Homo sapiens: one gene and its partner. The gene in region 1 interacts genetically with each later gene. Each region holds a gene or a part of one and is shown in the gene's direction. Other genes may lie near its edges. The genes, in order: RBBP7 and SREBF2.

What was found.
Region 2: changes in RBBP7 (region 1) and SREBF2 together harm fitness less than expected from each alone (positive genetic interaction), as found in Homo sapiens cells (one large-scale study listed by BioGRID).

Annotation. Positions count from the first base shown.
Region 1 is NC_000023.11:16,846,363-16,850,179, reverse strand, and holds part of RBBP7 (histone-binding protein RBBP7), read left to right. Parts: intron 1-878; coding exon 879-936; intron 937-3,817. UniProt on the Homo sapiens protein: Core histone-binding subunit that may target chromatin remodeling factors, histone acetyltransferases and histone deacetylases to their histone substrates in a manner that is regulated by nucleosomal DNA.
Region 2 is NC_000022.11:41,867,292-41,871,108, forward strand, and holds part of SREBF2 (sterol regulatory element-binding protein 2), read left to right. Parts: intron 1-1,319; coding exon 1,320-1,501; intron 1,502-3,597; coding exon 3,598-3,744; intron 3,745-3,817.

The DNA of each region.
Region 1 (3,817 bases):
TGGTGAGTTTTAGCAACTATACTGACAGGTGGAAGATAAGTATTGTCTAGCAATCCCACAGGTTTGAGATTGTTTGGTTAGTTTTGTGGGAAGGAAAAAAATGTCTCACTTGGAGGGCTGGGTTTTGTTTTTTAGTAGTTGTTACTACTAAAGTCTTTGGGCTAGGTATAAGGACAGGGCTGATATTGATACATAAAGAGTGATTTCACTGTTGAGCACTGGCAAATTCTACAAATTGAAGTTTTTAAGAGAAAAACCATAAAAACATTTCCTTGGCTTACACATTTCTCAAAGTTTTATTGCCATATCTTTAGACAGATCTATAGTACTGATTTGTAATTATATTTTACTCCTGGGATGCAACAGGCTTTGAGTGAAGTATAGGGATTGCACATCAGTTTATGTGTAGATTTTTTTAACTATACATTTCACCTTTTAATTCTAAGGCAATAAACAGTTAATGAAGGGATTTTGAGTTAATGTTTATTATTGACAATAATTCCTCATTCTGCAACTTCAATTATGAACAACTCTAACTTATTTCCAGAAAGTAAACATCCCGTCCTTACACCAAATATAAACAGTAGCCAGATGTGGTGAGGCTGAGGCGAGAGGATCGCTTTTGAGCCCAGGAGTTCAAGGCTGTAGTGCACAGTGATCGTGCCTGTGAATGAATAGCTACTGACTGCAGCCTGGGAAACATAGCGAGGCCATGTCTCTAAGGAAAAAAAAAACCTAATTGATTGTAGTATAGAAATAAGTTGTTTTTGTGAGTGTGTTTATGTTTTAAGATTACTTTCTGGGCTGATACTGGTTTAGCAGATGTTCGTGCTACAAGAATTTCACTGATGAAAGCGTTATATTCTTTATTCTTACAGTAAAATTGGGGAAGAACAATCAGCAGAAGATGCAGAAGATGGGCCTCCAGAACTCCTGGTACGCATTGGCTTATAGAAGATGAAATGTCATATGCAGATTGGATTGTCATTGATCTCTTTATTTCGAGAATGGGTCAGAACTTCGAATTCTAGCTCTTGCAGATGGTTTCAAAATGGAGGCCCTGAAGGTTATTGCAACTGGGCTTTGACATTTATCAAAAATAGTAAATGGAGCCCAGTAGGTTTTTATGAATGTTTCACTGAGAATGGTTTGAGGTCCTGGAAAATAGTATATAGTAATTTCTCACTGATTTCAACTCTGGTATTTGTGATGGTTTGGGGATGGGGAGTGAGTATAATTGCTATTCAGTTGGCAGTACTTAACATTTCCTAACAGTATAGAAAAAATTTTAAATGCTTTTTAAGTTTCCTGCCCAGAAAAGGAGTGCTTTCTCAATCTTGATGTTAGCAGAGCCCACTATCTCCCTCCCATGCCTGATTGAAGCATCACGCATCTCCTTGGCCCTTTGAAAGCTTATGTGGTGGTATCTGCCCATCCTCATTCTTCCCGTCTGAGTCCTTCAGTGCTCACTTCGTCATTTTTCTATGAAGCATTGCCGGATTTAGCAATGGTTCCCTGTCCTTGCTCTGAATCCAACATTTGTCTCCTCCCATTATTTGGCCGATAGTCACTCATCACTCTGTCATTTACGATTTTAGTTCTAATGCCAGTACTCATTTTTGGCACACTTGTACTTTGTCCATGAGTTTTATTTATTCATTTTTTCTGTGAACCTATGGAGTATATTGAATGTCCACAAGTTTTCAAAGGTAAAGAAGGTCCTTGAGAGCAAGCCCTGCACACAGAAGATGTTCACTAAGCCCACCTTGTAAGAATGCTCCAGACCCTTTTATTTTGATGACGGCTTTACTGAGATATAATTTACATACCACACAGTTCACTTCTTTAAAGTGTACAGTTCAGTGGGGAGGGAGTGTTCTTGGGTTTTGGGGGTTTTTTTTCTTTTTTTGTTCTTGAAGTCAGTGGTTTTTAGTATATTCATAGACTTGTAAAACTATCACCACAAATCAATTCTAGAACATTATTCATCCCCTCCAAAAGAAACTATAGCTATCACCTCCCAATTCTCTTCTTCCTCCAGCCCTTGGCAACTACTGTGCTACTTTCTGGCACTATAAGATTGGGCTATTCTAGATATTTCATATAAATATGACTTTTGTCTTTTGGGACTGATTCTTTCACATAGTACAATGTTTTCAAGGTCTCCAGCTATTTTTTTTAGGGAGAAAGGAAAGCGTATTACTTTGTATATTATGCCTCTGCAACAATTCCAAGGTCCTTGAGAAAATACACTAGGATTTTGCTTTTTACAAGAGAGCTTGAAATCAAGGGACATTTGAGAGTAGTAAACTGGGCCTGGGCATGGTGGCTCCTGCCTGGAATCCCAGCACTTTGGGAGGCCAAGGCAGGTGGATCACGTGAGCCCACAAGTTCAAGACCAGGCTGGGAAACATGGCAAAACCCTGTCCTGTCTCTACCAAAAAAAAAAAAAAATACATAAATTAGCCAGGTGTGGTGGCGCGTGCCTGTAGTCCCAGCTACTTGGGAGACTGAGGTAGGAGAATCACCTGAGCCCGGGAAGTTGAGGCTGCAGTGAGCCATGATCACACCACTGCACTCCAGCCTGGGCAATGGGAGTGAGACCCTGTCCCAAAAACAAAGTAGTAAACTATTCCACCAGTATGCTTTGATAACTCCTGTATGTTTTCTAAGCCCCAGTGATCTTAAAATATATTCACCTGTGTACCCCTTAAGAGTACTCTCTCTGTCGCCCAGGCTGGAGTGCAGTGGTGCAATCTCAGCTCACTGCAACCTCTGCCTCCCGGGTTCAAGTGATTCTCCTGCCTCAGCCTCCCGAGTAGCTGGGACTACAGGTGCGCAACACCATGTCCAGCTAATTTTTGTATTTTTAGTAGAGACAGGGTTTCACCATGTTGGCCAGGATGGTCTTGATCTCTTGACCTCGTGATCCGCCCGCCTCAGCCTCCCAAAGTGGTGGGATTACAGGCGTGAGCCACCACACCCGGCCAGTATATTCACTTGTGTACCCCTTAAGAGTACTTTAAAAAGCTATTTACCTCTTTTTTTTTTAAGTCAAGGTCTGGTTCTGTCACCCAGGCTGGAGTGCAGTGGCGCAGTCTTAGTTCACTGCAACCTCCACCTCCCAGGTTCAAGCTGTCTTCCCATCTCAGCCTCCTGAGTAGCTGGGACTATGGGCACACCCCACCACGCCCGGCTAATTTTCGTATTTTTTGTAGAGACGGGGTTTTGTCATGTTGCCCAGGCTGGTCTTGAACTCCTGAGCTCGAGCCATCCGCCTGCTTTGGCCTCCCAAAGTGCTGGGATTACAGGCGTGAGTTTTACCCAGCCCCACCTCATATTTTTAACCCGATAAGATTATTCGGTAAAATAGATACATTGCATAATACCTAGTTGGCAGGCAGAGACCTCATTGTCAAACTAGAGTCAAATCAGACTTTGTCAGAAAGTGTGATGTCCCAGTTCCAAACAGTGTATTTAGTACTGTCCTTGTGAAGAAGTGTTTCGTTTAAATCTTAATTCTAAGATAAAAAAATAAGGCATAGTGCATTCCGACGAGGTTGTCTCTTGCGGGGAACAACTGCTCTCTTCAGAATTGTTTAGCAAAGCTCTCACCTTAGGCATAGCTTATGAGGGACTATCTGGAGCTATGCTTTTGGAGCCAGGGATTTTCTTTCACCCTGGTGCTGTCTGTGTACGTTGGAAAGATGGGCAAGAAGTATGCCTCTCTCAGTAAAGTGGAGAGGGGAAGAACCAGAAGACTCCTCAGGCCCCTTGTATAATAGAAGAGTATGTTACATGGCATATAACGGATTGA
Region 2 (3,817 bases), on another chromosome or scaffold:
GTTAGAATGGTAGTGGTTGGTTGGTTCCAATGTTTATGTGCCAGTTTGCAGACACTGTAAATATTTCTGTCGTCTTCAGGAATGGCAGGTATATCAATATGGTCCTGTCTGAATGAGGTTCTGGTAACTGGCAATAAGAACTGGTACAGGAGCATGTCACATTCTGCAGCTTCAAATACCTTAATATCTATTGCGCCTAATTCAAAAATACTTGGTTAAAAAATCCAGCAAGCGGCCGGGCGCGGTGGCTCACGCCTGTAATCCCAGCACTTTGGGAGGCCAAGGCGGGCGGATCACGAGGTCAGGAGATTGAGACCATCCTGGCTAACTCAGTGAAACCCCATCTCTACTAAAAAATAGAAAAAATTAGCCGGGCATGGTGGCGGGCGCCTGTAGTCCCAGCTACTCGGGAGGCTGAGGCAGGAGAATGGCGTGAACCCGGGAGGCAGAGCTTGCAGTGAGCAGAGATCGTGCCACTGCACTCCAGCCTAGGCAACAGAGCGAGACTCCCATCTTAAAAAGAAAAAAAAAAATCCAGCAAGCATAGTAGACACAGGGCCATTCTGATAACTAGTGGTGGAGACTTGAATAAGGCTTGAAATTGGCTAGGCGGCAGCCAGATCTCAGCTGCCACAGTTGAGAACTATTCATTCAGCAAACATCTGAGCATCCACTATGGTGATGAATATGACTTTTAATATAGGTGCAGCAGCTTCAAGTAGCAAGCCTCATGCTGGGCCCTTAGTATGTGTTGAGGGAATGGATGACTGAAAGGGGCCTGTTCTTTCTGTGATGTGCTGCATCCCAGTGCCTTTTCATCATATTTCCCTCTGACTCTGTGGGGAGCCCAGGGTAAGATTAGTATTGCTTTGAATTTCAAAGAATCTTATAGTTCTTCAATGGAGTTCAAGAATTGGGACAGGTGGGGGAATGTAAAGGCAAAAAGCTGAGACAGTCCTCCCAAAGTGCACTTGCCGTCCAGAAAGGATGGAAGAAAATGAAGCCCCAGGGAGTTGTTGATTCTCAACATCTGTTAACTCCCTTGCTGGGTGCAGTCATTTGCTGATTAGCTTCCCTTTCCCCCACCCTGGCACCCAGAGTAATAAAACAATTTGTACTCGTTCCCTCAGAAATTGATGCAGCCCTTATGGGATGTTCTTGTTGTCTAAGCCACCTTGTAAATGGCTGTGCACATCATCTTCAGCAGTAGGTGGGGAGTTGGAATCATTATGAGATACTCCATCCTCAGGTTTCTGCTGCAGCTGCAGTGACAGAATGCATTCCTCATCTCTGTGCCTTCTTTCTCCTCTTCTCCCAAGTCCTTCAGCCTCAAGTCCAAAGCCTGGTGACATCCTCCCAGGTACAGCCGGTCACCATTCAGCAGCAGGTGCAGACAGTACAGGCCCAGCGGGTGCTGACACAAACGGCCAATGGCACGCTGCAGACCCTTGCCCCGGCTACGGTGCAGACAGTTGCTGCGCCACAGGTGCAGCAGGTCCCGGTAAGTGGCTGGAAAGGATTCAGGGAGGCACTGGTTGGGGCTGTTAACTGGTCCTTGGTTGAAGATGTGGTCTACATACTAAGAAGGACCAACCAGAGTGTACACAAAGCAGCTTGTAGGGCGCCAGGATGCACCTGTGAGCAGCGTATAGTGACCTGGCTGAGTCCATATCTGTAGATAGACACTGGCACTCAGGAAAGGCTGGTGCAGTCACTTACGTACACATGTAATGGGCATAAAACTGGAAAGAAATGTGCTAAATTGGTATTTCCCAGATAATTTTCTTTTTCATAGTTTTGTGTTGTGTTTTTTTGTTGTTGTTGTTGTTTTGAGACGGAGTCTCATTCTGTTGCCCAAGCTGGAGTGGAGTGGTGTGGTCTCAGCTCACTATAACCTCCGCCTCCCGGGTTCAAGCAGTTCTGCTGCTTCAGCCTCCCGAGTAGCTGGGACTACAGGCATGTGCCACCACACCCGGCTAATTTTTATATTTTTAGTAGAGACGGGATGTTGGCCAGGCTGGCTTGAACTTCTGACCTTGTGATCCACCCGCCTCGGCCTCCCAAAGTGCTGGGATTACAGACGTGAGCCACTGCCCTTGGCTTTCATAGTTTTCTGTTCTCCATATTTTCTGCTGTGGATCCTGAACATATATTGGGTTGGGGGGAGGGGGGGCATGTATTATTAATCTTTTTTTTAATTTTTTTTTTTTGGAGACAGTTTTGCTCTTGTTGCCCAGGTTGGAGTGCAGTGGCGTGATCTTGGCTCCCTGCAACCCCCGCCTACCAGGTTCAAGCGATTCTCCTGCCTCAGCCTCCCAAGTAGCTGGGATTACAAGCACCTGCCACTGCACCTGGCTAGTTTTTTGTATTTTTAGTAGAGATGGGGTTTCTCCAGGTTGGCCAGGCTGGTTTTGAACTCCTGGCCTCAAACAGTGCATCGATCTCGGCCTCCCAAAGTGCTGAGACTACAGGTGGGAGCCACTGTGCCCAGCTGGGGGACGTGTATTATTTTTATAATCACAAAAAACGTCTTTATGTTATATATCATCGTGGACTATATCCTCTTTTTTCTTTTTTTTTTTTTGAGAGTCTTGCTCTGTCGCCCAGGCTGGAGTGCAGTGGCACGATCTCGGCTCACTGTGCAACCTCAGCCTCCTGGGTTCAAGCAATTCTCCTGCCTCGGCCTCCCGAGTAGCTGGGATTCCAGGCACGCGCCATCACGCCCAGCTAATTTTTGTATTTTTAGTAGAGACAGGGTTTCACCATGTTGGTTAGGCTGGTCTCAAACTCCTGACCTCATGATCCACCTGCCTTGGTCTCCCAAAGTGCTGGGATTACAAGCATGAGCCACCACATCTGGCCTATATTTTCTTACTAACAATTTATCTTAAAAAAATCAGGTTTATTATTTTTGCTTCTCAGCCATGTGTCTGGCTTTCCTGAGTCTTTTCTCTCCTCTCTGCCATCCACCCTACCCATCTCTGCTCTGCTCCTGCTGGGCCACTGGCACCACCCTCTTGAAAGTCTTTCAACCTAAAAACCCATGACCTGGCTGAGCACCATGGCTCACGCCTGTAATCTCAGCACTTTGGGAGGCTGAGGCAGGTGGATTTCTTGAACCCAAAAGTTCAGGACCAGCCTGGGCAACATGGTGAAACCCTGTCTCTACAAAAAAATACAAACAATTAGCCAGGCATGGTGGCACACACCTGTAGTCCCAGCTACTCAGGAGGCTGAGGCAGCAGGATCACTTGAGCCCGGGAGGTCAAGGCTGCAGTGAGCTGAGATTGCACCACTGCACTCCAGCCTGGGCAACAGAGAGCAACCCTGTCTCAGCAAAAAAAAAAAAAAAAAAAAAAAGCCAGGACCCTCATTAGCTAGCCCCTCTTTCTCCACCTGAACCCGGTATTCAGGCTGTACAAAATAGCCGGCTTTTGAAATGGCCTCTATGAAATTTCCTGTTCATTTTTTTATTCTCAATTTCATAAAAATTATATCATTTCTCATTCTTTCTTGGAAGGTCTATGCAGTAAGAAAGGAATGCATAACAGAAGGATAATGCTATCATCCTTTTACTTTTCTTCCTTCTTCATCCAGGTCCTGGTCCAGCCTCAGATCATCAAGACAGATTCCCTTGTTTTGACCACACTGAAGACAGATGGCAGCCCTGTTATGGCTGCGGTCCAGAACCCGGCCCTCACCGCCCTCACCACCCCTATCCAGACGGCTGCCCTTCAAGTACCAGTAAGAGCTGCCTTCTCCCCCACCCTCCTCCCTCCCCCTTTATTCCTGGAGGTGTTAGTCTTCAGAGATGTTA